Homo sapiens: one gene and its partners. The protein of the gene in region 6 purifies or fractionates together with the protein of the main gene of each other region. This does not show direct contact. Each region holds a gene or a part of one and is shown on either strand. Other genes may lie near its edges.

Region 1 (4,609 bases), on a different chromosome or scaffold from region 6:
CCTTTTAAAGAAACAATGATGCTTCATAAAGCTGAAAAGGAGTCAGACACTAAGGTGCAGAAAACGCTACTCTGTGCTTAAGCAACAGATGGGCTTTCAGCCAGTGAATCCACCAGGGCCATTTCTGAGTGCTACACCATTTCCCATGGGTCCCTTACTTTTCATTGAAGATTATATTGACAGCTGTACATGCATCTGATATGGCAAGTCAAAAAACAAATTGCTCTCCTAGAACACAGATCTGAAATAAGAGAGAAGGCCAATGCTCAAACAATAAATTGACTTGTCAAATCAACTAGTTACTTCCCAACTCTGACAACGTACTTGGAAATGAATAATACTGTTAAGATCAAAAACATATACACAAAACCTCAGTAAATCTAAAATTCTGAATGGAAAATTTTAGGGATACTTAGAGGCATTTTCCATTTTTTCTAATAAAGGGCATGCCTTTGGATAAGAAAATGAGATGAACGTGTGGCTTCAACAGTATCAAAATGTAAGAAATAATTTTCTAAACCATGAGTAATTACTAAAACAATGAGCTTCAAGCAAGGGATAAAATTACACTCCACAAGTATCAAAATAAATCAGCAGATGATTCAACAGCCAAATTAAGAAAGTTTTCAATGTAAATGAAGAAGGAGAAATTATTTTAGCTATGTTGGAAAGTTAACTATCACAGAGAAAAAAAGCATGCTAAAAAAAAAATTAGGACAACAGTGGAAAAGTATCCAGTAATTCCCATGAAAAACAACATATTAGGGAGTTCTATATTCAGGCAGAGAGAGAGAGAGAGATCGGTGTAAAGAAAATAGGTATAATCACAGTATTGGTTTTTTGTTTTTTGCCCAAGGAAGTAAATAAAATTTAAGAGGTGAGCCTCAGTAGACCTCATGACTAAACATGGTGTTGGAGAAATGTACTTTGCCTAAACGGAATAGCCAACAGATGAGGTGAGACACCAGCAACATATATACATGAGCACATGCATCTTCCCAGGGAGACGTGCAGTTTTGATCACATTCTTAGGGTGGTCTGTGACCCAACAAAAGGATAAGAACTACTTCTAATATAGAAAGTATTCCTGCAATTGGTAAAAGGTCAGAATAAATTATCTCTGTGGTCTCTTTTTTGTCTTCTCTAAAATTTGTCAGCTTAAATATTATACAAATTATAAAACTTTAGGCCTATAGGCAAACTGAGAAAAGCAAGGACAGAAAAGTCAGGACCTGCTCATGAGGTTCTAAGAATAATAGCATGAAATCAGGGTCCAAGCAGAGGCAGATCAAGTAGCCAGTGAGAAAGTGCTCATCAAGTTATCTGCCCCGAAGTCTCCACACCAGTGCTGAACACTACCCATCATCAGTCACTCCTGTGGTTTTAGCTATTAAATCCAGAAAAGTAGTTTCCAAGGTCAGACAAATTGAATGCCTATTAACACGGACTTGTTAGTTTGGGCTGAAATAAAGGGTTAGTCACAAAAGAGAGAAGAAAATAAAAATGCAAAAAAAGAGACGCTATACAGGACAGAATTAACCTCTGCTTCATTACAATGTGGCCAGGGTCAGCATAATGGGAAATGCAACAGTCATTAAACACTGAAAGAAGGACAGCGACCACCTAGGTTACTCTGATAACATCTCTAGAGTACTCACCTGGGCCAAAACACTTTCCATTTCTGATTTCTTTTCGACAGAACACTTCTTATCAGACATCAATTTCTGTAAATGAGCTGTAAGAACAGTGTTGACATATATCAATCAATGGGAAAAAGGACAATGCACTTTTCAGTTTCAATGCTAGACAATTAAAAAGTAAATCCAAGCATAAAGTTCTTAATTTACATGAATCCCACAGTTGATTTTACAACAGCAGTCATGGTATTGTCTTGATTCATTTGCTAATTAGAAAAATTATCTGTATATAACTAATTATCTACATATAACTTTTTTAAAAAATAAAGGACTTGATCTATATACTTAAGATCTGTGCACTTTGCTCTTTGAATGTTATGCCTCAATAAAAAATTTAATGAAAGACATCTGAGAGAAAGTTTAAACCTTTTATTTTGATCAATCCTACCTGAAGGAGATGAAGAACCTCACCTTTTAATAGATGGTCAGCACGAAAACATTCTCCATTTTTTACGTCTTTCACCATGAAGTCAGCAAATTTGTCTACATGGCCAGAGGTCCTAAATTAACAAATGCCAACCCAATTTGTCATTCTCATACAAATTACACATAGATATTACCTTATAAGATAATTCCCCATCAATATTTATATCCATCTCAAAGATGGAAGCTCCCATATCTATAGTAATGATGTATCCATGACAGTAATGGATGCCAGAGAAAATTCTTCCTCAAATCTATTTCTCACCCTCTCCCACATTCTTCCTTCCCATAAGAAAGAAGACATTAACTAGACAATAAAAAGACAATTCTTTTCTACAAGTTGTCATAAAGTCTGTACTATTCTTCAGGATCAATTAATCCATGCCTATGCCATTATTATTAGTGATCTAAGCAAAGGCCAAAATCACTGGGAATTTGACTAGTTAAGAATTCATGGCAGCTCAGTATAGACATTGAACCTTAAGGGAAGTGTTTTCTGCCACTGAAACCTGTACTGACATTGGTATTATCTCTACAAAGTTCCTATTGGTGGAACAAGTAGCTAAAATGATAGGTAGTCCTGATCTTATAGAGCCATCATTCAGAATTCCTCCTCTTCATTGGCTGAAATTATTAAGAGAACCTAACGGATGCCAATAGTAAAAATTAGCTCTCCACCAGTCAACCTTAAATGAATAATGACGAGTTACAAAATGGCAAGAATTCCTCTTTCAGGCCGGGCGCAGTGGCTCACGCCTGTAATCCCAGCACTTTGGGAGGCCGAGGCAGGCGGATCACGAGGTCAGGAGATCGAGACCATGGTGAAACCCCGTCTCTACTAAAAATACAAAAAAATTAGCCAGGCACGGTGGCAGGTGCCTGTAGTCCCAGCTGCTCTGGAGGCTGAGGCAAGAGAATGGCGTGAACCCGAGAGGCGGAGCTTGCAGTGAGCAGAGATCGCCCCACTGCACTCCAGCCTGGGGGACAGAGCGAGACTCCATCTCAAAAAATAAATAAATAAATAAAAGAATTCCTTTCAGTTTCACATTCTGAAATTCTGCCCTACTTTGGGAGGCCGAGGCGGGCGGATCACGAGGTCAGGAGATCGAGACCACCCTGGCTAACATGGTGAAACCCCGTCTGTACTAAAAATACAAAAAAAAAATTAGCCAGACGTGGTGGTGGGTGCCTGTAGTCCCAGCTACTTGGGAGGCTGAGGCAGGAGAATGGCGTGAACCTGGGAGGCAGAGCTTGCAGTGAGCCGAGATCAAGCCACTGCATTCCAGCTTGGGCGACAGAGCAAGACTCCATCTCACACACACAAAAAAAGGAAATTCTGCCCTACTTTCAATAACGTTGGTAGGAATAATCTAAGTTTCTGCATTGAAACTTTAAAACAAATAGTATTTAACTGAAAATCTCTACAAGTATACCTTTGCTCAGAACTTGTATTAAGGAAATAATCAAGGATATACCCAAAAATCCATCTATCAAGATATTCGGTGCAGTCAAAAATGAGAAACACTTTAATGCTTTCAATATGGCACAAACTAACATATTATGGCACTTCCATAAAACAGAATACTATGCTATCATTAAAAATGCTTTAGATGAATAGTTAATGATATGAGTATATGTTCATCAATATTACATGAAAATAAGCAGTGTACTGCTAACACTGAAATACATAGGGACGTACAGAAAAAACAGGAAGGACAAACACAATCATCTTAACATAGCTATCTGTGAGCAGAAGGTATACATTTCTTTGCTTTTCCATATTTTTCAGATTTTCTACATGAAATGAGTAGTTCTTTATAATCAGGAAGTTATTTAGATAAGTATATTAAATAATTTAATAAGTTATTTTATTTAAAGTAGGATACCCCCACTCCAAAGTAAGATCTCACTTTAAAACTGGCTCAGGGGTGAGCATGGTGCAATCGATCTCCAGGATCTGTTCCTCTTGGATAAAGTGCTGCCTCCAGGTCTGAATAATATTGTTCTTCAAAGCACAGCCAACTGGCCCAAAGTCATACAGACCACTAACACCTATAGAATATGAGAGGAAAACACATACTTTACCTTGTTACTCTGAACAAATGAAGGCAAGGAGACATGAGAAACTGATACCTATACTCCCTAAAAGTGTATTCAAGTCAACAATGCAAATCCCTCAATACTGAAGAACCTTACTTTCAGCTAGCTGATGGAAGTAAAATAAAAAAGCTCTTACGCCATTTACTAATTCTATATTTGTAATTTCAAGTAGGACTAGCCCAAAATCTACAACAAAAGTTCCCCCTTAGAGAACAGAATGAAAAAGCAGATTACAGTTTTCTGCCGTAAAAATTACAAAATAATTTCTCACCACATCTGATAACAATGATCTATAATTTTAGCATCCAATTCTCTAATTTTTTCCTGGGTATTTGAGGCACTATTTAACCTCAAAAGGGTAAACATTTACAGATCCACTTAGCCAAACT
Region 2 (4,609 bases), on a different chromosome or scaffold from region 6:
GCCATGGTGGTGCACACCTGTTAGTCCCAGCTACTCGGGAGGCCGAAGTGGGAGAATCACTTGAGCCCAGAAGGTCAAGGCCACAGTGAGCTGTGATCTTGCTACTGCATTCCAGCCTGGGTGACAGAATGAGACCTTGTCTTTAAAAAAAAACTTTACTTCAAATCAACAGATATTTTTATTATTTGTAAAGATAGGGTATTGCTGTGTTGCCCAGGCTGGTCTCGAACCCCTGGCCTCAAGTGATTCTGCTGTCTTGGCCTTCCAAAGCACTGAGATTACAGGCATGAGCCATCATCAAATCAAGAGATATTATCAGAAGAGCTTTCTCAATTTCTACTGTTTAACAGTATATCTTCCTTGCATAGCCCTATAAATATACTAAAAAGCTTGGAATTGTATAGTTAAAACATGTGATTATTATATTATATAAAATATACCCCAGTAAAGCCTTTTTTAAAAAATTAACATGTCGGCCGGGCACGGTGGCTCATGCCTATAATCCCAGCACTTTGGGAGGCTGAGGTGGGTGGATCACCTGAGGTCAGGGGTTCGAGACCAGCCTGACCAACAAGGTGAAACCCCATCTCTACTAAAAACACAAAAATTAGCCGGGCATAGTGGCAGGCACCTGTAGTCCCAGCTACTCGGGAGGCTGAGACAGAAGAATTGCTTGAACCCGGGAGGTGGAGGTTGCAGTGAGCTACGATCATGCCACTGCACTCCAGCCTGGGCAACAGAGTGAGACTCTGTCTCAAAAAAAAAAATAAATAAATAAAATAAAATAAAATAAAATAAAATAAAATAAAATAAAATAAACATATCAATAAATACCAAAAAAATAGTATATCTACATAGAATTTCACATAAAATAAACTGTTTTCTATGTGAAAATTAACCTAAAAATATGCTTTGCTTATGTTTAAGATGTCATGCTTTTTATCAGTTGAGGAGTTCAGCTTAATAATCCTCTAAGATCTTAAACAAATAGGAAAAAAACTAAAAGTAGAAAATGGAAATAAAATGTCAAAGCATTTCTACCACTCAGAATTGATCTTATAACATGAAATGCTTTTTAAAAGAAAATATTAAAGTTAAACTCCCCTATTTTGCTCGTTTTTGCTTATCTAAAATAACATTCTGCACAAATCCCCAAAGATTAGTCATAACGTAACAAGACTGATTAAGACTGATGGGGATGGGGAAGGAGGCTATAGAAGACCAAAAAGATAAATCATACCAACTCTAAGTACATGCTTTGACTCTAAGCAGCAATGTATTAAAGGCTGGCCAGTTATACTGCCAGCAGCTATAATGACTAGAATGAAGTCCTACTGTAAACCATCAATCAATCAATCAATCAATCAATCACTTTTGTTGAGTAAAAGTCTAAATTTTGTGTTTAAACAAGTCTTTAATTCAAGCAAGACTTTAACAAGTTAAAAGGAGCTTATGGGTAGGAAGTAGTGTTATGATGTATGGGCATAAAGGGTTTTAATGGGATAGTGAAAATGTCTATAATAATACTTAAATGGCTGCCCAATCACCTACAGGATTGATGTAAACATGGAAAAGGTCAAAAACTTGGGTCACTAAAATAGATGATTAATGGAGAGGATGAGGTTGATAGTTAAATGTAGATAAGTGGTCTTATTCTCAATAAAAATGTGAACATAAGGCGAGTTTCTACAAAGATGGACAGGACTCATTCATGAAACAGCAAAAACTGGACATTTGTTCTAATCTTTGAAGAGTATGAAAAATTCCTATTTTAAAGGAAAACAGTAACTCACAGGAAATACCAACCCAACATAAAATCAGAAACAATAGTCTAAAGTAATAAAAATCAAACGTTTGCACGATCAAATTATGAATGAAATTCACTACTAAAATTCACACTGATTTTGTTTCATCCACAGTGTCAATGTTGTGATGCATTTCAATTGTGTGACACAGGCAGACTGTGGATCAAAAGTGGTTTCTGGTGCGACTTACTCTCTTGAGTATACCTGCAGTCCCCTTTCTTAAGTGTGTTAAAAAAAAAGGGGGATTTCTTCAATTCGCCAATACTCTAGCTCTCCATGTGCTTTCTAGGAAACAAGTGTTAACCCACCTTATTTGTCAAACCTAGCTCCAAAGGACTTTTGACTCCCCACAAACCGATGTAGCTCAAGAGAGGGTATCTGTCACCAGTATGTATAGTGAAAAAAGTATCCCAAGTCCCAACAGCAATTCCTAAAAGGAGTTTATTTAAAAAACCACACACACCTGTAAAATAAGTATATATCCTCCAAGGTGACTAGTTTTAAAAAAACAGTATTGGCTTTGATGTAAAGTACTAGTGAATATGTTAGAAAAATCTCACTGTAACCAAGTGAAATGAAAGCAAGTATGGTTTGCAGAGATTCAAAGAAAATATAAGAAAACCTACTGTTGCCACTAAAAAGAATCATATATTAAATATACTCACACAATAGCTCTTCAGTCTGATAAAATCTACAGTCATAGGAATGGATCTATCACTATTTCTATTCAGTGCTTTGATGTAATCCAGCAGGTCAGCAAAGAATTTATAGCCCCCCTTGAGCACACAGAGGGCTACAATGTGATGGCCTCCCATCTCCTTCATCACATCTCGAGCAAGACGTTCAGTCCTACAGAAATAAAATCAGGAATTTAATAGAAAGTTTCATACATTAAACTTTATAACAAACACCTCTTAGTCATTAAACTTCCACACCAACCTGGGCAATATAGTGAGACCCCATGCCTGCAAAAAAAAAAAAATTAGCCAGGCATGGTAGCATGTACCTGTAGTCCCAGCTACTTGAGAGGTGAGGTGGGAAAATCACTTTAGTGCAGGATGTTGAGGCTGGAGTGAACTGTGATTGTGCCACTGCACTCCAGCCTGGACAATAGAGCAAGACCTTGTCTCAAAAAAATGCATTAAAAATTTTTTTTAAATCTTCCACGTAACACATCCTTTGCCCTCATGTTTCATAAGGTAAAAAATTTGATACCTTCAAAAAAACCAAGCATACCACTATCATAATTTTTTTTAAATGCAAATAAAAACAAGATACCATTTTCACCTATCAGACTGGCAGGTTCTGATTAAATGAAATTTCTTGGATAATATACAATATTAAGAGAGACTGTAGAAACTGGGCCAGTGGCTCATGCCTGTAATCCCAGCACTTTGGGAGGCTGGGTAACATGGCGAACCCTGTTTCTACAAAATAAAAATATTAGCTGGGAGTGGTGGCGCACACCTATAGTCCCAGCTACTCAGGAGGCTGAGGTGGAAGGATCGCTTGAACCCAGGAGGTTGAGACTGCAGTGAACTGTGATCATTCTGCTGCACTGCACCCCAGCCTGGGCAACAGAGACCTTGTCTCAAAAAAAAAAAAAAAAGAGACAAATTGTGAAGAGAAAGGTACTCTCATATAACATCAGGAGTATAAAATGATTCAACTTCTTAGAGGAAAATTTGGCAATACCAAAATATTCAATAAACTCTTTCCCCTTGACCCAGAAATTCCACTTGAATAAAGCTGAACAAGTACCAAACATGTAAAAGAATGTTTCTTCTAGTACAGTCGGTAAGAACAAAATAGTGTCTATCAATAGTGGACTGGTTAAATCAGTTATGGTATCTCCATAAGACAGAATGCTATGCAACCTTTAAAATATATTAGATAGCTCTAGACACACTAATATTAAAAGTGTCCAATAACATTTAAAACTATACTCATACGTTAAAATATAAATGTATATATGTACTTTTGCATATAGTATACATGCATAGCCAGTGCTTGAGAAGAAATGTGTACAGAAGGCTGAAAGGAGAGAACTTTAGTCTTCTTGTTTATGGCCTCCATAGTTAGAATATTTTATAACACAAATATTTTGATATTATAATTTTAAAATAAAAACACAGAATAGCCAGACATACAATGCAAGCATTCAATACCAGGTAAGGTTTTTCACTGTAATTGACTTAACAGAAAATTTTCAAGCTAGATGTGCATAATAATAAAAATCTGACCTTGCCTTCATGTGATTCAGCCCCAGTCCATTACCCTGTTTAGGACTGAGAAATGCAAGACTCTGGCTAGAGTTCCTTCTTCCATCTCCCTTCAATGTTTACTTTGTTCTGGTCCCTACAGAGTCCCACTATACCACAACTGATACTAAGTAATTAGTAAGGCCCTCCTCTTTTATTTTTAATAAAGAAGATTTTAGAAAGCATCAGTTATTTAATAAGTTGGCCTAGTTTATGTTCAAATAGCAAGTACTCAGAACAGCTGCTGATGTTTGAAATTAACACAAGAAAAAGTAAAAAACCTCATTTTAAGATCTTACTTACCTGTCCATAATTAGTCCATGAGGAATAAACACCCTTTCCAAATCCTCAGCATAATGATTAGGTATGCAAAATAAATCAAGGTCATAACCTGGTTCATCATCACTAATCTGAAAAAGAAATATAGCTGTTTCAATGAGAGCATTACAGGATACAAACATTTGATTGGATTAAGATGTTAAAAAATAACCTTAGTCTATCAGAGAAATTTAGGTGTAAGATGATATTAGTAACTGTTAACTT
Region 3 (4,609 bases), about 97 Mb from region 6:
GTGGAGGCTGCAGTGAGCCAAAATCGAGCCACTTAACTCCAGCCTGGGCAACAGAGTGAGACTCCATCTCAAAAAAAAAAAAACCACCAAATTTTAGCAATTCTGAGTTCTCTCTCAATACCCAACTCCTCACTCCCTCGAAAGGAAAGGGTAAAGAAGGCAGGGAGGGGAGGGGTGAAAGAAGGTTAGGGAAAGAAAAAAGAGACAAAACAACAAAAATCAAACTCAGATTAGGAAGAAAGCCAGCCCTGCACAGCTACGACCACGGAACAATGGCTGAAAGAAACTAAGAGAGCCACAGAGACAAAGCCCAGGCGAGTACAAAACCGTGATCTTACATTCTCTGTAAAGAGCTCCTCTTCACAATGGACTTGGATTGGAAAGAAACAAAAAGTAAAAATCACGTTGTTTTTGGGTAGTAAAATTGTGGAGATATATATGCATATATATAGTTTAATTTCCTTTGCTGCAATAAGGCTGTTTCAGTAAATACTGTTTTCAACATGCAGGACAGAGAACCTATGCAGAGAACAGTCAAAAATACAAAATCCAGTAAGTGCCCTTCGGGAATCTGTATAAATATTTTTAGTATTCAGAAGCAAGGCTTAATAGCTAAGTGAAATCACATCTGTAGGATGATAAAATCACAGCAGCTGTGTTGTACTGGGGCTTGCCAGAGATGGAAGACAAGGGTTCAAATCCCAGCTTTGTCACTTATGGGGCTGAGTGACACTAGGTAAGTTGCTAAATCTCTCTAACTTTCAGGTTTCTCGTCAGTAAAATAGCAATAATAGCATCCCTTACACTGAATTTTAACTGAAAATAATGTGCCAGCACCCAGCAGACTCTGGCACAGAGACATTCCCATAAATATGCTTTAAATTCAAAATAATACTAAGCTTTAACCAAAAAAAAAAAAAAAAAAGTAAAAGGACCTGTCACATTTACAACACTTTACAGCTAAACTGGGACCACACAAATGGAACACAATCTAAACCAACTGCATTCCAGGGGTGCTGCAAACTGCTAGTTCACAAACAATGAACAGCGGCTAAGGTTTCTAACACTAAGTTTCAGACATTCTTTAGCACAAACAAGTTGGAGAATCAGAAAATTAATTCACCATCAAATATTCACTGAGTTGCACAGGGCTCCGTGAGACCCTGAGAGTGAGGCACAGAAGCTGCTCTCAGAGGTCTAGAATTGTGCAGGGGCAGGAGGGACAATGCCTAGGGGAAGCAAAGTGGGGCCAAGGCGGGAGTCCTGGGATCCTGCTTCACTCCTGGCAGGGACTTGCTAACTCCGCCAGGGGCAGCCAGGAGGGAATGGCTTCTGGGCCACACTCAGGATGAGGAGGAGGAACACTCCAGGCAGAAAATGTGTTTCTGAAAGGAGGCAGCAACAGCTGTTAGGCTCTCTTCAGAGGAGGGCGAGGGGGCTGCTGCCACTGAAGCCCAGGGCACAAGGGAAGGAAGAACAGGAAATGAGATGAGAAAAAGGGCCTAGAGCCCAACTGAAAAGGGAGATGGCCCCAAATGAAGGCGTGACTGCAACACTGCAGCCAAGAGCCGCAAGGAGCTGGCGCTGAGGAACGCCAGGAGAGAATGACGACAGAAACCCAGGATGTGGCCCAGGGGTTAGCTGCTGTCTGAGAGGTCTCTGTAATGACAGTGGCCATCCCTACCGCCACCACCACTGGATTCGTCCTCACCCTCAACATTTCTGGCCAGGATGCAAGCTCCCTCCCTGCCCCAGGCCTCTCACGCCACTGCTCCCCACAGCTGTCAGCTGCTCCTTCTAACAAGCGAACCTAATCCTCTCATTCCCTGGCTTGAAAGAGCAGGAGACCTCCAGGACAAAATCAAAACAGCTCTGCCTGCAGCGTCTGGACCCCCGAGGCCTGCTTTCCAGCCTTGCCTCTGCTCCAAACTCCCAACATCCATCCCTCTTCCACCCTCCCCATCTTTGCTTCTGCTGCACCCCCTGCATGGGTCCCTTGCCCCACCCCCACTCACTGCTCCTGCCGCACCCATGCAGCAAACTCTGGCCTTTCAGTGCTTAACCACACGGAGCCCTTGTGCACCACAGGCCTGAGGTCTATCCCTCGGGGGTAAGGGGTGCATTGCAAATTCCTACTCATCCCTCAGGCGTTTAAGTGTTCTTTCTTCCCACTTTCACCCATCAGACTGGCAAAAATACTCAGCATCCGTGAGGTGGTGGGAGACAAGCGTCCTTGTATTCTCTAGTGGGAGTATAAACTCGTGCCAGCTTTTTGGACAGCAATTTGGCAATAGCTCTCAAAAGGTAAAATGCACTGTCCCTTTTCTGGGCTGCCCAGCAGCTGTATTTCCTGCCTCTGTCCGGAGAATTCCACTGCCATCTGAGCTGAGGCTGAGCTTCACCAATCAGAAGCACCCACCTTCCCCATGAGGAACTCTCTGGTGGTGGAAGGGATGGCAGGAAGGCTCAGTTCTGTGGCAGCCAGGGTCCGGCACCAGCTGTGCCCGCAGCATAGACTGAGACACTGTTCTTGGCCCCAAACCCAGTTCTTGCCCTCCCAACTACATTGTGAGCCACCTGCTATACTTTTCTCAAAAATCCCTCTCTTCCTTAAATCATCCAGTGACTCAACTGCTTGCAACAGAGAATTCTGGCCGAAACGTGTACACCTTAATCCAGAAATTCCACTGCTAAGAATTTATCTAAATGAAGTACGTATTTATACAAGTAGACCAAGACACATTTGTTACCAAAATATGAAAAACAAGATGTTCATCAGAAGAAGAATGGGTCAGCAAGCATGGTGTAGCCACATAATACAATTCTGTACAGCTTGCTATTATTACAGAAATTCTATAGGCCCACGTAAGCTGATATAAACACTTCTTCAAAACGAGTTAATAGTAAGGGAAGAATATTATGTATAGCATGAGCTCATTTGTGTGTTTTTTTTAAAGGGGTAACTAGATGACAGAGAAGGAGATACGTGAAAGTTTATCATAACACATTTTCTGGAAAAAAATACAAACAATTCTTAACAGTGGTTACTCTGGAGGGATGTGAAGGAGACTTTTCTTATAGTTCTTTGTCCCACTTGAATGTTCTGTCATGTTCATAAATTATGTTCAGTAGAAAATGCTTGAATGTCACTTGCTCAGAAAGGACTACACAAACACCCACCAGCCACACACTCCTTCCTATTATCCTCTCTAATGACTGTTCTTTTCCTCTGGGGCACTTATCACAATGCATTCTTCTAGGTTCATGTGAATTTACCTGTCTAATACCTGTCTCCCTCACAAGACTATAGGCTCTGAGGCAGACGCTGTGTTAACCACTAATCTTCCCAGCTCCTAGCAAAGTGCTCCGCACTAGTGATGCTTAATACACATCAGACAAATGAATGAAGAGATCCAATCCTCCTTCTAAGACTCGGCTCAAGTGAAGTTCTTCCTGAATTATCCCAGCTTGGAAGTGACCTTTTCTCCCTTGGGTCCCCTCCTGCCCTCGTCAGTAGGTACATCTGTCTCCCCCATTAGACTGAGTATCTGAGGACAAAGACCCTGATATTCACTTCTATCTGTGCTGCCTGCTATAGTGCCTTTACACAGAAGGCACTCACTAAAGAGCTGATGAGGCCGGGTGCAGTGGCTCACACCTGTAATCCTAGCACTTTGGGAGGCAGAGGCCGGCAGATCACGAGGTCAGGAGTTCCGTATCAGCCTGGCCAACACAGTGAAATCCCCTCTCTACTAAAAATACAAAAATTAGCTGAGCATGGTGGTGCATGCCTATAGTCCCAGCTACTCGGGAGGCTGAGGCAGGAGAATCACTTGAACCCGGGAAGCAGGGGTTGCAGCGAGCAGAGATCATGCCACTGCACACCAGACCGGGTGACAGTGCGAGACTCAGTCTCAAAAAAAAAAAAAAGCTGATAAATGAGTGGAGGAACAAACAAGACCTCAAAGTAACAATTTACTTGGGTATTAAAATCAGATGTTACTGATGTCTCATTCTCCTTAATCTGGCATTTTAGGGCAGCAAAACCAGTCTGTGTGGAGTCAGTGGTTTCTAAATAGAATTATTCTATAAACTCAAGAGCTGTGGACCCATCACCCGGAACTCAAATGAGACTTGGACAGACAGGAGGTCACTCTTGGCCAGGAAAAAGCACAAAGTTGGGCGGCAGAAGTAAAATGGGCAGACACAAAGCTGTTTACCTACTCACTTTCAACAACTTTTCCTAATTCAGCTTTATGCTCATGACACAAATTACCACAGTTCACTGGCAAGAGAAACCAATTTTCCCATTTTACAAATGAAGCTGCTTTGTATCAATGTCAAACTTCTTAAATTTGATGACTTTATCAAGGTGACAGAAGAGAACATCTTGAAGGATTCAGAGGTGAAAGGCTGTGGTGCCTGCTATTTACCCTCAAATGGTTCCCCACGCACACGAAACAATGATAGGAATAACAATGTGTGTGTGAGAGGCAGAACACATGTGTCAAAATGCTAACAACTGACACATCTGAGTAAAGGACAGATCAGTGTTTGTTGAACGTTACTGTTACTTTTCTGCAAGTCTGAAATTTAAGTAAAAAAAAGA
Region 4 (3,327 bases), on a different chromosome or scaffold from region 6:
CCCAGGAAGTCAAAGCTGCAATGAGCCATGATCCCACCACTGCAACTCCAGTCTGGGTGGCAGAGTGCAAGACCTTGTTTCCAAAAAAAAAAAAACTTTGCATGTAAATATGGATGTTGTCACTTTCTACTGTTGTTATTCACTGTAAAACTCATCACATTTTAATTGAATTATGTAAACATGGGAATAGTATTTAAATATGACAGCTTTGAAATCCTAATGCATTCTATTATGGTGTGTTTTAGGTCCTGGATGTTCTGACCAAAGGGAAGCAGCAGGCATTCTTTGTGCCACCAAGCCGAGCTATTGCACATCAATTAATCAAACACTGGATTAGAATAAATCCTAATCTCTAAATCTAAGAACTAAGCTTTGAGTATTATTTAATAATTTCTAATAACACTCATTCCTCAAGTGATATTAGAGATTATTCAGTACTCTTGAGAGTGTCACAACACAAAATACGATGTTGGGTTTTCGAAATATTTTCAAAGTGTTCTGTCTTAATCACAAATTCATATTTTTACACATTTTTACAATATTGCCTCAGATTATGTTAAATTTGGGTCAGTCTTCTCTGAACTTTTTCTCTCTTGGTTTCTTTTCTTCCTTCACAGTTTTATCTCACAAAACCATTTTTCTAATAAGAGACATCATGTTGGAAAGATGTTCTAGAAATGTGCATAAATTTCAGTGCCTCTTGTAAGCATTAAACTGATGATGAAGAAAGTTCCTGATTTGAGAAATGAATCAAAGTAATTTTAATGAATTTTTAGCTTGTATTAGCTTGAGTTAGCTGGCATTGATTTTTTAGTCCTTTTGTTACCTTTAAGTTGTCAATATATGGTTTTTGTTCATCTCCCCATTGTAGTCCCACTTGCTCTTTCCTGGGGGTTCCATTGTTCTAGCAGTGGAGGTGTTATAGTGTCGCCACTCGTCTAATTTGACCAGTGTTAAGAATTTTCTAATTTAATAATTTAATAGTGATCTCAATACCACACCCTCATGGAAGGAGAAAAGCATACTATTATATCTGGGACCTCTCTTTTAGACCTAAAATTAATTAACATATCTACTTATATGTTACTTATACCTAAAGCTGTTATTAAGACAAACCAAGATTCTCTGCTTTTGCACTGAAATTAAACTTGAAAGGAATTCTCCTCAAAGGTCGGATATTAAATAAGTCCCAGGCAGATTTACATATTTAATTTAAAACATTGGCTTTATTTCATTTTGTGATGAGTGATGTATCTGTGTTAACAAAAAATTGTATAATCATTACCAATACTATTTATTATGCTCAAATATATCTTGGCTTTGACCTTATTTCAACACATTCTAAGAAGCCTTGACAAAGTAAGTATATTTTAGAGCTGAATCAGTAAGATTCTAGAGAAAGCAAAACATAGTAGTTCACAATTTTGCAACATAGAAAGTCACATTTTGAAAGGCTATTTTGAAATTGATTTAATAGCTATTATAGTTTATGAATATCAAAATTTGTATAATTTGCATCTTTACTAATGTATGCTAGAGCTACAAGAGACCTTAAGGATAATATATGAAATTAGCTTTCCTTATTTTATAGATAAGGAAAAAGAAATTGTGAAAGGTGAATTTACCTAATTAGTGAAAGTTACATAACTAATTACAACAGTCTGTACTATATAATGCAGAGGACGATTCTCCCTGTAAAAGGAACTAGAAGCTATTACTAAAAATATATATAGACAAAATTAAAAGAAGGAATGATAAGAATAAATTTAATTTACCAAATATTGTTAATTAAAATTTTAGATACTTAACATTTATTTAACTTAAATAAAAGATAACTGTCAGATAAAACTTTATTTTACTAATGAGCAGTGATTTTCTTAGGAATTGATGAAGGCTTATTGGTATCAAGAATTTAAACCAAATTAAAACTGACAGAGGACATTTAGATACATAATAAAATTCGAGCTACATAAGTATATGGAAAATAATGTACCTTGATTATTATGAAATAGAGCATCTTGAAATTCAGTTTTACTCTAAATGTACTTTTAATACTTGCAGATTCTAAGATTACATTGTAAAATTCCAGGTTTTCATAATGTTAAAATAGGAAAGTAGAATATAAAGTATCAACAAGTGTAGTTATACATTTTGTTTTGGATATTTAATCCTTACTTGGGAAAAAATCAGCATCTAGGTAAATTATTATTTTAATAACAACTCTTAAATTGCCAACCTCTGAGAGGTGAAAAGCTATGTAAATAGAAGGAATGGCCAGTTCAAAAGAATAGTAGATGTGATAGTGCCGTGAATGTATTCTACTGGAAATGAATGTAATAATACATTAAATTTTTAAAATCTATTTTGTTTTGTGTGTGTGTTTAACATGTTTTGACAAGTGTCCTGAAAAATGAGAAAAGCTGGATTTCAGTCGTTAACCTGTTTCGAATTGATAATGTACAAGAAATGCAAAAGCCTTTTTAAAAGTGTCTGTGTTTGGGAGACTTAAAACTTTGATTTGAATCTTAAAGTATAGTTTGGGGTCAAATACAAACAGACTTACATATATACATACATATATAAAGTCAATAATTTTTGTTCTTCAGGTTTAAAGCGATATATCTAATTTTTATTACTTGTCTAATACTGCTAATTGTTGGATTTTGATATTTTCACATGTTGATGGAACATGAAGAGTTAGAAGCCCACATATTTTATTTAGTTGGAAAAATGAGAAATTCTTTTAAAGACCCAGTTAGGGATTTGGCTGAAGACAGAAAATAATAGGATAACAAAGGGAGAGACCAAGATGGAAGGAGGAAGAATAAGTTTGTTAATAAGCCAAATTAATCCCACATAACAACAATAGATAGCTGGTCCTGGAACTGTGTTGCTAATGTGGATACAACAAAATATTAGGTGAAGATGTTCTATAAAACAAATCCATTAATTATTTAGAGTAAAATTTTCACAGTGAAAATTTTATTAGGGCTGAGACCCAGTTATTAGGTTCTGGGGGGGGGGAGGGAGGGGGAGAAAGAGAGAGAGAGAGAGATGGGTGGTGGGTATTGAGTGAAATTTGTGTATTTGTTGAGGTTAAAAGGGGCTGTTATCTCTATTAGAAAAAAAAATATGTAGGACAAAATAAATCCAATGTGCAAAATTAGGAGTCTCTATCTTCAAATATATAAGATCTAGGTCCTGAGGCAAAGCAAGAGTAGTTGCCAAGAGGTTGGAAAAGGCAGGGAAGTTTGATATTCTGTGCAGATCGGGGAGGGTGCTTGATAAAGTGGGGGCAGATGCTTGAGAGCTTTAAGCCCACAGGAG
Region 5 (4,609 bases), on a different chromosome or scaffold from region 6:
CTTCAAGTCCACACAAGTTTTAAGAAATCCTACACCAACAGTTCTTCTCCCATTTCTAATTATTTAACATGTTAGGTCAGAAGCAAATTGTTTTACCTTAAGAGTTTCAAGTGTACCATCTTCTTTGGCAAGGACGCTGCCAGTGATTCCTAAAATGCTAACGACATTCACTCTAACCCCGACATTACTACTATGAATGCCTGCTTTGCATAATGTCATCAGCTGATCAGGAGTCATGCACTGTTAAAAGAGAAGAGGACAGTATTTATAATGTTAAACTCAATTAATTCTATCAGCATGTGAAAACCGGACTGACAGGAATCTCCTCTATAGGCTACAGGATTTTAAGAGTGACATAAACTCCTGGCAGGTAAGTTACTATTAATATGTATTCCAGTTCTCCCAGACAGAGCTGGTAATTCTGAACTAAGGTGAACCCTGCTCATGTCGGCACTGTTATCTAATATCAAAGGGGCTCCATTTAATTTGATGAAGACTTTCATTCCAGATGTACACACACTAAAGAGAGTCCAATTCCTTTTTAATATTAATGGTAAGAAAAAGGCTTTGAAAGTATAAATAGGATTGTGTGGTTTTAAAAAAATTGGCTGAGTCTATACAAGGTAAGAACTTACTTTGAGATATCTGTATTATCATAATTAAAGACTGTAGAAACCATTACATTATATGGTGCTTCTACCATGTAGTGGATAATTTTCAGTTTAAGGCTGGGCGCGGTGGCTCACGCCTGCAATCTCAGCTACTCAGGAGGCTGAGGCACAAGAAACGCTTGAACCTGGGAGACAGAGGTTGCAGTGAGCTGAGATTGTGCCACTGAACTCTAGCCTGGGCAACAGAGTGAGACTATCTCCTATAAGCAGCAGCACAGTGTAGTGATGAAAGGCTTGGAATCTGGAGCCAGACACAAAGGCTTGGAATCTGGAGATTGAACCCTGGGTTCAAATCCTAGCTTCACTACTTATCACTCGTGTGAGCCCCTACACTAGACTAATGTATTTTTATTTTTTGTAGACATGAAGTCTCACAAAGTTGCCCAGGCTGTTCTTGAACTCTTGGGCTCAAGCAATCCTCCCGCCTCAGGCTCCCAAAGTGTTAGGATTATTAGTATGAGCCACTGCACCTGGCCCTGAACATGGGCTTTGAGTAATTTTCCTTAACCATCACACTGATCCCATAAGCTGCTGCTTACATACCAGGGGAAATCAATAAAAATACTTGATATTCCTATAGGCCCTAGAGTATAAGGTTTTCTGGTCCATCCAACAGCCACATGGCAGGCTATGCATCCCATTACCATTCCTACTTCTTAGAAACTGAGGGTCAAATTATGCTCTTCAAAAAAATTCTTAGCTTTGGAAAGCTGAGGCAAGAGGATCACTCGAGAGCAGGAGTTTAAGACCAGGCTGGGCAACATAGCAAGACCTCATCTCTATTAAAAAACTAAAAAATAAAAATAAAGTATAAAAAAATTTTAAAAGCATTAAGAAAAAAATTATATAAAGAAGCAAAAAGAAATAGTGTTATTGGCAATAACAAGAGCATTGTTATTTTGATACTATTAAGTACATTCCGTAGGATAAAGCAAATAATAGTTTTAATGTCACTACAATTTTAATGTTACTACAGCAAACAATTTTAATATCACTGTATAGCAAATAATTTTAATGTCTTTTAATGTCACTACTACAAAGTACATTCTGTAGGAGAAAGCAAATAATAAAATTTTTGAAAAATATTTTTCTTTCTTTTCTCTAATTTTAATTTTTAAATTATTTATTATTATTATTATTTTTGAAACGGAGTATCGCTCTGTCGCCCAGGCTGGATTACAGTGGCCCGATCTTGGCTCACTGCAAGCTCCGCCTCCTGGGTTCACACCATTCTTCTGCCTCAGTCTCCTGAGTAGCCAGAACTACAGGCACCCGCCACCACACCCGGCTAATTTTTTGTATTTTTTAATAGAGACGGGGTTTCACTGTGTTAGCCAGGATGGTCTTGATCTCCTGACCTTGTGATCCGCCCACCTCGGCCTCCAAAACTGCTGGGATTACAGGCGTGAGCCACCGTGCCCGACCTATTTATTATTATTTTTAAAGCCAGTCAAACTTAGCGTGGGGGGTTGTATACCAACTTCAGTGACACTAATGTTAATAAGTCCTGATAACCCACTACCATCAGACCAGCTGCAAATAAGAATTTTAATGTCACTAATGTATCTTTTTGGGTACAATGTACCTTTTTGGGTACAAATGTATCTTTTTGGGGGATACAAAAAGATAGAAATACAAAATCGAAAATTAAGTAAAAATATTGTACCATTTTTTATTTAAACTGGAAATTATCAGGATAAACTTACTATTTTTGTCTCCTAAAAAAATGCCTATTTCCTAGCTATTTCCACTAAAAAGACCTAGAAACAATGGCAACATGATAGCAATAAGCACTCCACAATTCACTTTCCCCACTAAAGAAATCAGAGCTTCTTGGAGAAGTAACTAATTCCAGGGTTTTTTTTTTTTTTTTTTGAGACGGAGTTTCACTCTTGTCACACTCTTGTCACCCAGGCTGGAGTGCAGTGCAATCTTGGCTCACTGCAACCTCCACCTCCTGGCTTCAAGCGATTCTCCTGCCTCAGCCTCCCAAGTAGCTGGGATTACAGGCGCGTGCCACCACACCCAGCTAATTTTTGAATTTTCAGTAGAGACGGAGTTTCGCCATGTGGGTCAGGCTGGTCTCAAACTCCTGACCTCAAGTGATCCGCCCACCTCAGCCTCCTAAAGTGTTGGGATTACAGGCATGAGCCACTGTGCCTGGCCAGATTCCAGGTTTTAAGCAAGAAAATTACAAATTGAACCTGGGACATCCTATGCCTGGAAGCAAAAGTGATCAAAAACCTAAAATTCTTGTAAAAGAGGCACAGGAGCCAATTTGAAGGGACTCCTACTATCCAAAGATGGGATGAATTTGGCAGCAAAAAGCATGACTATAATGGAATGAAATACAAATATATAAAAAACCCTGAGTTCAAAATGATACTAAAAAAAAAAAAATCACTGGTCACTTATAGAGATTGCTAGGATAGCTATTCTGAAAAAAAAAAAAATCATAGCTAATAAATGTAAAAAAAAAAAAAAGAAAAGACAAAATTAGGGTATCTCTATTCTGCAACCCACTAATGACATAATGGAGCCAGGCAACCACAATCACTGGTTATAAAACCATTATGTGAACCCACTAATTAATCTCAGCATCACTATTTTATAATATCATATGATTTGTGATATAAATATAGGAAATATATAAAGCACTATAAATTATTCTTGCCAAAAAATCTGGACCTGTCTAGATTATTTATTATAAATACAAAAAATAAATAAATAAATAATCTGGACCTGGATCTAATTAAGGCTCTAGACCTAGCTCCCGGCTCACAGGAAACATGGGGGACAGAGGAATGCTGAACGATGCCATCATGATGAGTTGGCCAAATCTGCCAGTGCAGAAAATGCTACGGAACAAAATGAGAGTTTCTTCAATGGGTAAGTGTATGGGGAAAGGAGGGGAGTGAGGGAAATGCTATAGACTAAGAGATTTAAGAATATGAGAATATACTAAAACCACTGAATTGTACACTTTAGTTACTTATTTTTGAGACAGAGTCTCCCTCTGTCGCCCAGGCTGGAGTGCAGTGGTGCAATCTCAGCTCACTGCAACCTCCACCTCCCAGTTCAAGCAATTCTCCCTGCCTCAGCCTTCCAAGTAGCTGGGATTACAGGTGCCTGCCACCATGCCCGGCTGATTTTTGTATTTTTTGTAGAGATAGGGTTTCGCCACGTTGGCCAGGCTGATCTTGAACTCCAGACCTTACGTGGTCCACTGGCCTTGGCCTCCCAAAGTGCTGGGATTACAGGCGTGAGCCACTGCAGCTGGCCTGAACTGTATACTTTAAATGGATAAACTGCATGGTATGTGAATCAAATCTCAGTAAAATTTTTTTTAGAGATAATAAGAGACCAAAATATCAACCAAAAGCAACACATGAACCTTGCTTAGATCCTGATTTGAACAAGCCAACTGTTAAAAGACGTTTTTTTCTTTTTCTGTTTTTTTTTTTTTTTTTTTTTGAGACGGAGTCTTGCTCTATCGCCTAGGCTGGAGTGCAGTGGCATGATCTTGGCTCACTGCAACTTCCGCCTCCCAGGTTCAAGTGATTCTCCTGCCACAGCCTCCCAAGTAGCTGGGATTATAGGAGTGCGCCACCATGCCCAGCTAACTTTTGTATTTTTAGTAGAGACGGGGTTTCACCATGTTGGCCAGGCTGGTCTTGACTTCCTGACCTCAGGTGATCTGCCCGCCTCAGCCTCCCAAAGTGCTGGGATTACAGGTGTGAGCCACCGTGCCTGGCCATGTTAAAATACATTTTTAAGGCAATCTGGGAAAACTGAACTTAGACTGCAGCTGGGAAAACTGAACTCAGAGTGCAAACCAAAGGATAATAAGAAATATCCGTTAATTTGGAGCCTTGGGGTAATGGTACTGGGGTTAAGATTTTTAAAAATTTATTTTTCTGTCAGACATGCATACTGAA
Region 6 (4,334 bases):
GCCAGTCTCATTTCAACTCCTCATAGATTTAGTTCCTACCCTCGGTACTGTTTCTGCAGGACCTTGGTCTCAGCTATTGCAATCATCTAGAAAGAACTGGGTATGTGTCTAGAGCAGCATTTGCCTTGGAATGCTGCATATTTCAAAATGTTAGTGTCTCTTAAAGGGCCCATGCTCAAACTTGTAAAATGCCACCCACATAAAGTCCCTTTAAGAGGCAGGACTTTTAGAAGCACTGTCATTAAAAACAAAAAAATGCCTGTTTAACCAGGTGCTATGGACTGAATGTTCATGCCACCCAAAAATCATGTGTTGAAACCATGTGATGGTGTTTGAAGGTAGGTCCTTTGGGAGGTGATCAGGTCATGAGGGTAGAACCCTCATGAATGGGATTCGTGCTCTTACACAAAAGGCCTCAAAGAGCTCTTTTGCCCCTAGTGCCACGTGAGGACACAGCAGAAAGATGGCCATCTATGAGCTAGGAAATGGCTCATGGCCACCAAATCTGCTAGCGCTTTGATCTTGGATTTCCCAGCCTTCAGAACTGTGAGAAATACATCTCTGTTGTTTATAAGCCACCATGTTTATGGTATGTTGTTACAGCAGCCGGAAATGACTAAGACAACAGGTTTAACACAAAGTTTCCAAAGTAATTGACCGCAGAACTCCTTTCCCCTTGCATCATGTATTTATATCTTGCACAACACGTGAAAACATAGTTTGGGAAACACTGACCTAAGACAGTGCTTACTCAGTTGTGCTCAGAACTACTCTGTTATTAAAATGCAGAATTCTGGAACCTGCCCTAAACTTACAGAATCAATGACTGACAGTGGGGACCAAGAGCCCACATGCTGAACAAATGACTCTGGGGAACCTTATGTGCATGGAAGGCTATCAACCATTGGCTTAGGGTGTCACAGATCCCAGAACAGCTTACACTTTAACATAAGTTTCTTAAAGACTAAAAAATCTTCTCACCCCTTATGAAGTGAATCTCAAAAGGTGGAATTTTAGGGACTGTCTAGTGATGGTCAACTATGTCCAGGTTTTTCCAGGATGGTATGTATGCTTCTTGCTCCAGTGAGATTAACACCCTCCTTCACTCTTAGAAGTAGCTCCATTTAGACAATAAATTATCTGCTCAACCTAGAGCCTTGCAGTCTTCAAACATGCCAGTTAGCTTCTACCACGGATAGTTCTGGGAATGCTGGTATCACTACAGTTCATTATTCTTACCCTTGGAATAAATCTTACTTTTGAAAGTAATCTTAGCAGAAGCAAGGTTCTAGGCAAGAAAATGTATCTTTATTTTTTTATTATTATACTTTCAGTTCTGGGATACATGTGGAGAACATGCAGGTTTGTTACATATGTATACAAGTGCCATGGTGGTTTGCTGCACCCATCAACCTGTCATCTACATTAGGTATTTCTCCTAATGCTATCCCTCCCCTAGCCCCCACCCCCCGATAGGCGTGTGATATTCCCCTCCCTGTGTCCATGTGTTCTCATCCTTAAACTCCAACTTATGAGTGAGAACATGCAATGTTTGGTCTTCTGTTCTTGTGCTAGTTTCCTGAGAATGTTGGTTTCCAGCTTCATCCATGTCCGTCCAAAGGACAAGAACTCATCCTTTCTTATGGCTGCATAGTATTCCATGGTGTATATGTGCCACGTTTTCTTTATCCAGTTTATCATTGATGGGCATTTGGGTTGGTTCCAAGTCTTTGCTATTGTGAACAGTGCTGCAATAAACATACGTGTGCATGTGTCTTTATAGTAGAATGATTTATAATCCTGTGGGTATATTCCCAGTAATGGGATGGCTGGGTCAAATGGTATTTCTAATTCTAGATCCCTGAGGAATCGCCACACTGACTTCCACAATGGTTGAGCTAATTTACACTCCCACCAACAGTGTAAAAGCATTCCTATTTCTCCACATCCTCTCCAGCATCTGTCATTTCCTGACTTTTTAATGATTGCTATTCTAACTGGTGTGAAATGGCATCTCATTGTGGTTTTGATATGCATTTCTCTAATGACCAGTGATGATGAGCTTTTTTCATGTTTGTTGTCTGCATAAATATCTTCTTTTGAGAAGTGTCTGTCCATATCCTTTGCCCACTTTTTGATGGGGTTGTTTTTTTCTTGTAAATTTGTTGAAGTGCTTTGTAGATTCTGGATATTAGCCCTTTGTCAGAAGGATAGATTGCAAAAATTTTCTCCCATTCTGTAGGTTGCCTGTTCACTCTGATGGTGGTTTCTTTTGCTGTGCAGAAGGTCTTTAGTTTAATTAGATCCCATTTGTCAATTTTGGCTTTTGTTGCCATCGCTTTTGGTGTTTTAGTCATGAAGTCTTTGCCCATGCCTATGTCCTGAATGGTATTGCCCAGGTTTTCTTCTAGGGTTTTTATGGTTTTAGATTTTACGTTTGTCTTTAATCCATCTCGAGTTAATTTTTTATAAGGTGTAAGGAAGGGGTCCAATTTCAGTTTTCTGCATATGGCTAGCCAGTTTTCCCAACGCCATTTATTAAATAGGGAATCCTTTCCCCATTGCTTGTTTTTGTCAGGTTTGTCAAAGATGAGATGGTTGTAGATGTGTGGTGTTATTCCTGAGGCCTCTGTCTTGTTCCTTTGGTCTATATATCTGTTTTAGTACCAGTACCATCCTGTTTTGGTTATTGTAGCCTTGTAGTATAGTTTGAAGTCAGGTAGCTTGATGCCTCCAGTTTTGTTCTTTTTGCTTAGGATTGTCTTGGCTATGCAGGCTCTTTTTTGGTTCCATATGAAATTTAAAGCAGTTTTATCTAATTCTGTGAAGAAAGTCAATGGTAGCTTGATGGGGATAACACTGGGCAGTGTGGCCATTTTCACAATATTGATTCTTCCTGTCCATGAGCATGGAATGTTTTTCCATTTGTTTGTGTCCTCTCTTATTTCCTTGAGCAGTGGTTTGTAGTTCTCCTTGAAGAGGTCCTTCACATCCCTTGTAAGTTGGATTCCTAGATATTTTATTCTCTTTGTAGCAGTTGTGAATGAGAGTTCACTCATGGTTTGGCTCTCTGTTTGTCTGCTATTGGTGTATAGGAATGCTTGTGATTTTTGCACACTGATTTTGTATCCTGAGACTTTGCTGAAGTTGCTTATCAGCTTAAAGAGATTTTGGGCTGAGACAATGGGGTTTTCTAGAAATACAATCATGTCATCTGCAGACAGAGACAGTTTGACTTCCTCTCTTCCTATTTGAATGCCCTTTCTTTCTTTCTCTTGCCTGACTGCCCTGGCCAGAACTTTCAATCCTACGTTGAACAGGAGGGGCGAGAGAGGGCATCCTTGTCTTATGCCGGTTTTCAAAGGGAATGCTTCCAGCTTTTGTCCATTCAGTGTGATACTGGCTGTGGGTTTGTCATAAACAGCTCTTAATATTTTGAGATACGTTCCATCAATACCTAGTTTACTGAGCGTGTTTAGCCTGAGGGGGTGTTGAATTTCCTTGAAGGCTTTTCTCCATCTATTGAGATACATGTGGTTTTTTTCATTGGTTCTGTTTAGATGATGGATTATGTTTATTGATTTGCATATGTTGAACCAGCCTTGCATCCCAAGGATGAAGCAGACTTGATCATGGTGGATAAGCTTTTTGATGTGCTGCTGGATTCTGTTTCCCAGTATTTTATTGAGAATTTTCGCATCAATGTTCATCAGGGATATTGGCCTGAAGTTTTCTTTTTTGTTGTGTCTCTGCCAGGTTTGGGTAACAGGATGATGCTGACCTCATAAAATGAGTTAGGAAAGATCCCTCTTTTTCTATTGTTTGGAATAGTTGCAGAAGGAATGGTACCAGCTCCTCTTTGTACCTGTGGTAGAATTCAGCTGTGGATCCGTCTGGTCCTGGACTTTTTTTGGTAGGTAAGCTATTAATTCTGCCTCAATTTCAGAACTTGTTACTGGTCTTCGACTGGGATTCGACTTCTTCCTGGTTTAAACATAGGAGGATGTATGTGTCCATGAATTTATCCATTTCTTCTAGATGTTCTAGTTTATTTGCGTAGAGGTGTTTATAGTATTCTCTGATGGTAGTTTGTATTTCTGTGGGATCAGTGGTGATATCCCCTTTATCATTTTTGTTGCATCTATTTGATTGTTCTCTCTCTTCTTCATTAGTCTGGCTAGCAGTCTATTTTGTTATCTTTTCAAAAAACTAGCTCCTGGATTCACTGATTTTTTTTGAAGGGTTTTTCATGTCCCTGTCTCCTTCAATGCTGCTCTGATCTTAGTTATTTCTTGCCTTCTGCTAGTTTTTGCATTTGTTTGCTGTTGCTTCTC
Region 7 (4,051 bases), on a different chromosome or scaffold from region 6:
TGCATTTTTTCGGATCCAGAGTATTAACACCACTTTTTTTACTCTGCCCATTCAAAAACAGTAGGCAAATTGGGGGAACCAATTTATAATCACTCAAGCCCACTGCCAAAGTTCGGATAAGCCAGGGCAGAGGGGTTAGATTCCCCCCCCTCCGTAGGCAGAGAGAGGCCTCAGGAGAGTGGACATCTTTACTGAGACAGCCCCAAACACACCAGTGGCTCTCAAAGTGTGTCCCTGAGACCAGCAGCATCACCTTAGGAATCTGCTAGAAATAAAAATTCTTGGGCCATACCCCAGGGTTACTGAATCAGAAACTTGGTTGGGGCCTAGCAGTGTTTTCATGAGCCCTCCATTGATCTTGATGCAGCTGAAGTGCCGGGCACCAGTGAAAGGGAAGGGCTGCGGTAGTGATTCCATTGATTCCTGCTTTGATGGAAGTTATGGCCTCACAGGTTAGACGTTGCAAGTTGAGTTGGCCCTCTTGCCTAGGTGTGCCTCCTTGCCTTGGGATTCTGACATGAACAGGTGAAGTCTCTTCATGATTTTTTTTGTTGTTGTTGTTAATGGTATGCTTGCTATTATGGCCAATATGTAAATGTTACTCTGAATACATATTTATATACCATGTTACTTAGTGACATTATTCAAACATTTGTATGCGTATTTGTGAAATTGTTTGCATCAGTCATTTAAAAAATATTTCAGCCTAAGTTTTCTAAGAGGTATGTTGAATACATTTTTAAAAGCCAGCTTAAGGGTCACAGCAGCCTTAGTTTAGGAGAAGAGCTAATCACAGGTGACCACTCAAGTTCTTTCAATGAAGACCTGATGATGTATTTAGTTCCCATTTTCCACGGTGATTGACTCAATTTAAGTGTATTGTGGCTATATGTAATTTACAGGCTGCTTTGCGTTGCAGGTGGGAAAATCTCCCAGGCTGGTGTGAGGCTGAACTGGGGTAAAAGACCCCCTGACCCCTCCTCATTCTTCTAAGGTCACCACCTCTTAGAGGGTCTCTTATTTTCTTTCAGAGATCAAATGCACAGTTATGCTGTACAACTAAATTCTGCAGTCTTGGGAATCCTTACGAGTACCAACTATTAGTCACTTTTTAAAGTCCCCAAAGTGGAGTGAGGATAGGGGGAGTGGAAGCAGTGTTTGGTTCTTACTTTACCCAAACTGTGTATAAAGAATAAAGTTAGCAGAATGATGCCACAGTCATTGTTTGTGTTTTTTTTTTTTTTATTAATACCACATCAATTTGAAATTTTACAGGAACCAAGATTCAAGCTCCTTAGGTGCTACTGTATTTTTATGTTGCACGCACAGACACGTACACACAGTTTCATTAGTAATTTTTCATCTATAGGTTTTTCTTAAAAAAAAAAAAAAATCCTGTGTGGCACAAAGATCTCTTCAATTATCTAAACACAGCAGCAACAAAAGAAAAGAACTGGATGTGGCACTTCCACTGCAGAAGGTCCTTTGGAGGGGAAGCCCAAAAAGACAATCACTGACTTCCTGGGAGGGCAGAGGATGAGGATGGAGAATGCACTTCCTACTAGGACATGAAACCAGTTAAAACACTCAAAGGGGGCTAAGAAAATAAGATGGAGTAAGGCAAGGGTACCTTTTACCCATCCAAATTCCTAACTAATTTTTCCAAGACACGTAGACAATTTCCTTCCACTACTTTTTGCAGCTGCCGTACTTTGGGACCATCAAATATCATAGCCCTTACTTTAAACTCGCCAGTGCATATTCCCTCTGAAGGATCATGACTATGAGTGAGAACCTGAAGGAACTCACAGATGATTTTTCTTTCAAGTTCGCTGAATTCTCATATTGAAGGTGAAGAAAAAAACTTGCCCCCAAATGGGAATCGGAGATTTGAATCTCGGGAAAAGATCAAGAAAAAAAGGCTTTCTGTATTTCACCTCTTGAGAATGTTCCCCCCCAGACTGAGATAGGATCACAAAAACTCAATAACTGAGGAGCCCACATGCAGGTTATTTTTTTCTCTAACAAGTTTACAGCAGTGCACAGCAGTTACAGACATTTATTTTATAGTAAGAAAAGTACAACCTTATTTATTAAACTTGAGGTGGGCAGGGGAGAGGGAGGAAAGCACATTCGGGAACGAGTTCTCAAACTAATGCTCAGAACCGGTGTCCAGTGACGTAGAAACCACTTTCCCAAATGGCGGAGCCTTTCCTTCCCTGGGGATAGTGGCAGAGGGAGTGACCGCCACCGCAGCATGCCTGCTGACTCCCTCTCAGTCCCACTTTCCATTTCTATTCTTTTTTATCAGATGGCATTCTTGGAATCAGGAATTATCACTATCACCTATAAGTTATTTATCAAGTTGATAGTTAAATCATTAAAGAAAAGGAGTATCAGGGGTAGCTGCTCACATTGTGGGGCAGGAAGATAGGATTTGAGGGCTGCAAAAAAAAACCAAGGAAGGTATCACACTCCTGTCCCCAAATAATTTTTTCATAAGTTAATCATGACTTCTTAAGGGCAAAACTATAATGGATAGCTGAGTAAGACTAGTGCTGAAAACTGGACAGAAGGACCCAGAGGTGTTCTTTCATTTTCTCTCTTACCTCCAATCTTTCCCCTTTCAAGCTACAGGTAAAGGCTCTACCACCATTAAGGTATTGACTTATCCTATGAATTTGATTCTTTCTTCTTCTGAGTTCTAAGATAGTTCTTTTATCAGTCCATCAATTTTTGTGCTTGATACTGAGGGTTAAAGGGAAAGGATGGGAGAAAACACCAAATTAAAAAAAAAGCTTGGAATGCAGGCTCAAGCTGACACTGAGTATTTTCCTTCATAGTACAAGTAACGACGTTATAACTATTAAATGGTGTTTTAGTAACTGTTGCATTTCTGGTTTCCATGTACTTATTCTGCCTTTTTTTTGGCGATTCCAGGGAGTTTTGCTTGGATCCTATTGAGAAAAGGAGGGGAAAAAGAAAGAAAGTGAAAACATTAGCATTTGCTCTAGGTTTTTATTTTAACTGTGATGCTAGAGGACAGTCCTGGACTTGCATAAGCAATGTGAAATGCATTCTCCCGGCTGGGTATGGTGGCTCACGCGTGTAATCCCAGCACTTTGGGAGTCCGAGGCAGGCAGATCATGAGGTCAGGAGTTGAAGACCAGCCTGGCCAATGTGGTGAAACCCTGTCTCTACTAAAAAATGCAAAAATTAGCCAGGCGTGTTGGTGTGCACCTGTAATCCCAGCTACTCAGGAGGCTGAGGCAGGTGAATGAAGGATAATCGCTTGAACCCGGGAGGTGGAGGCTGCAGTGAGCAGACATCGCACCACTGCACTCCAGCCTGGGTGACAGCGAGACTCCATCTCAAAAAAAAAAAAAAAAAGAAAAAAAGAAAAATGTTAACAAATTCAAAGCGTTAGGTTCACAGTATTTGCTATGAATAATTCAAAATAAAAGCAGGGCTCATGCCTGTAATCTCAGCACTTTGTGAGGCCAAGGTGGGAGGATCACTTGAAGCCAGAAGTTAAAGCCTGGCCTGGGCAACATAGTGAGACCCCCATCTCTATAAAAAATAAAAAATTTGCCAGGGCATGGCACATGCCTGTAGTGTCAGCTACTCAGGAGGCTGGGGTGGGAGGATCACTTGGAGCAAGGGAGGTCAGAGGTCAAGGCTGCAGTGAGCTTTCAGCTTGTGCCACTGCACTTCAACCTGGGTGACAGAGTGAGACCCTGTCTCTAGAAAGCAAAACAAAAAAGAAAGAAAAAAGAAAAAAGAAAAAAAATACTGTCCTCTAGGTATGGGGAAAAAAAGTAAAAAGAAGAAAACAACTCTTTGATATAGGGAGTCATAAAGATGTTTGTCAATATTTTATTTCCTGATTTATTAATTGGTTTAAAAAAATGGGAACAGAGATTTGGCAATCTTAGAAAAGACAACTTTGATCCTTAAGTTACTTATTTACTAGAACTTTTGTTTCTGAGAGGGATACGTTTGGCTTAAATGAATACATGTGAAAATAAATGAAGGTGGGGAAGCAACCAAT

The links.
Region 1: the proteins of TEK (region 6) and GARS1 purify together in Homo sapiens (affinity purification with western blotting; one study listed by BioGRID). This does not show direct contact.
Region 2: the proteins of TEK (region 6) and HPRT1 purify together in Homo sapiens (affinity purification with mass spectrometry; one large-scale study listed by BioGRID and IntAct). This does not show direct contact.
Region 3: the proteins of TEK (region 6) and PSMB7 purify together in Homo sapiens (affinity purification with mass spectrometry; one large-scale study listed by BioGRID and IntAct). This does not show direct contact.
Region 4: the proteins of TEK (region 6) and NUDT12 purify together in Homo sapiens (affinity purification with mass spectrometry; one large-scale study listed by BioGRID and IntAct). This does not show direct contact.
Region 5: the proteins of TEK (region 6) and HEATR3 purify together in Homo sapiens (affinity purification with mass spectrometry, with the first as the bait; one large-scale study listed by BioGRID). This does not show direct contact.
Region 7: the proteins of TEK (region 6) and RTN3 purify together in Homo sapiens (affinity purification with mass spectrometry, with the first as the bait; one large-scale study listed by BioGRID). This does not show direct contact.

What each region holds. Positions count from the first base shown.
Region 1 is NC_000007.14:30,600,622-30,605,230, reverse strand, and holds part of GARS1 (glycine--tRNA ligase isoform 1 precursor), read right to left. Parts: intron 4,173-4,609; coding exon 4,031-4,172; intron 2,198-4,030; coding exon 2,109-2,197; intron 1,736-2,108; coding exon 1,659-1,735; intron 1-1,658. UniProt on the Homo sapiens protein: Catalyzes the ATP-dependent ligation of glycine to the 3'-end of its cognate tRNA, via the formation of an aminoacyl-adenylate intermediate (Gly-AMP).
Region 2 is NC_000023.11:134,473,226-134,477,834, reverse strand, and holds part of HPRT1 (hypoxanthine-guanine phosphoribosyltransferase), read right to left. Parts: intron 4,477-4,609; coding exon 4,370-4,476; intron 2,655-4,369; coding exon 2,471-2,654; intron 1-2,470. UniProt on the Homo sapiens protein: Converts guanine to guanosine monophosphate, and hypoxanthine to inosine monophosphate. Transfers the 5-phosphoribosyl group from 5-phosphoribosylpyrophosphate onto the purine.
Region 3 is NC_000009.12:124,398,103-124,402,711, forward strand, and holds part of PSMB7 (proteasome subunit beta type-7 precursor), read right to left. Parts: intron 1-4,609. UniProt on the Homo sapiens protein: Component of the 20S core proteasome complex involved in the proteolytic degradation of most intracellular proteins. This complex plays numerous essential roles within the cell by associating with different regulatory particles.
Region 4 is NC_000005.10:103,547,890-103,551,216, reverse strand, and holds the end of NUDT12 (NAD-capped RNA hydrolase NUDT12), read left to right. Parts: intron 1-245; coding exon 246-356; 3' UTR 357-2,362; downstream 2,363-3,327. UniProt on the Homo sapiens protein: mRNA decapping enzyme that specifically removes the nicotinamide adenine dinucleotide (NAD) cap from a subset of mRNAs by hydrolyzing the diphosphate linkage to produce nicotinamide mononucleotide (NMN) and 5' monophosphate mRNA.
Region 5 is NC_000016.10:50,095,861-50,100,469, reverse strand, and holds part of HEATR3 (HEAT repeat-containing protein 3), read right to left. Parts: intron 241-4,609; coding exon 97-240; intron 1-96. UniProt on the Homo sapiens protein: Plays a role in ribosome biogenesis and in nuclear import of the 60S ribosomal protein L5/large ribosomal subunit protein uL18 (RPL5). Required for proper erythrocyte maturation.
Region 6 is NC_000009.12:27,223,711-27,228,044, reverse strand, and holds part of TEK (angiopoietin-1 receptor isoform 1 precursor), read right to left. Parts: intron 1-4,334. UniProt on the Homo sapiens protein: Tyrosine-protein kinase that acts as a cell-surface receptor for ANGPT1, ANGPT2 and ANGPT4 and regulates angiogenesis, endothelial cell survival, proliferation, migration, adhesion and cell spreading, reorganization of the actin cytoskeleton, but also maintenance of vascular quiescence.
Region 7 is NC_000011.10:63,757,062-63,761,112, reverse strand, and holds the end of RTN3 (reticulon-3), read right to left. Parts: intron 2,958-4,051; coding exon 2,912-2,957; coding exon of another isoform or gene 2,722-2,911; 3' UTR 1,231-2,721; downstream 1-1,230. UniProt on the Homo sapiens protein: May be involved in membrane trafficking in the early secretory pathway. Inhibits BACE1 activity and amyloid precursor protein processing. May induce caspase-8 cascade and apoptosis.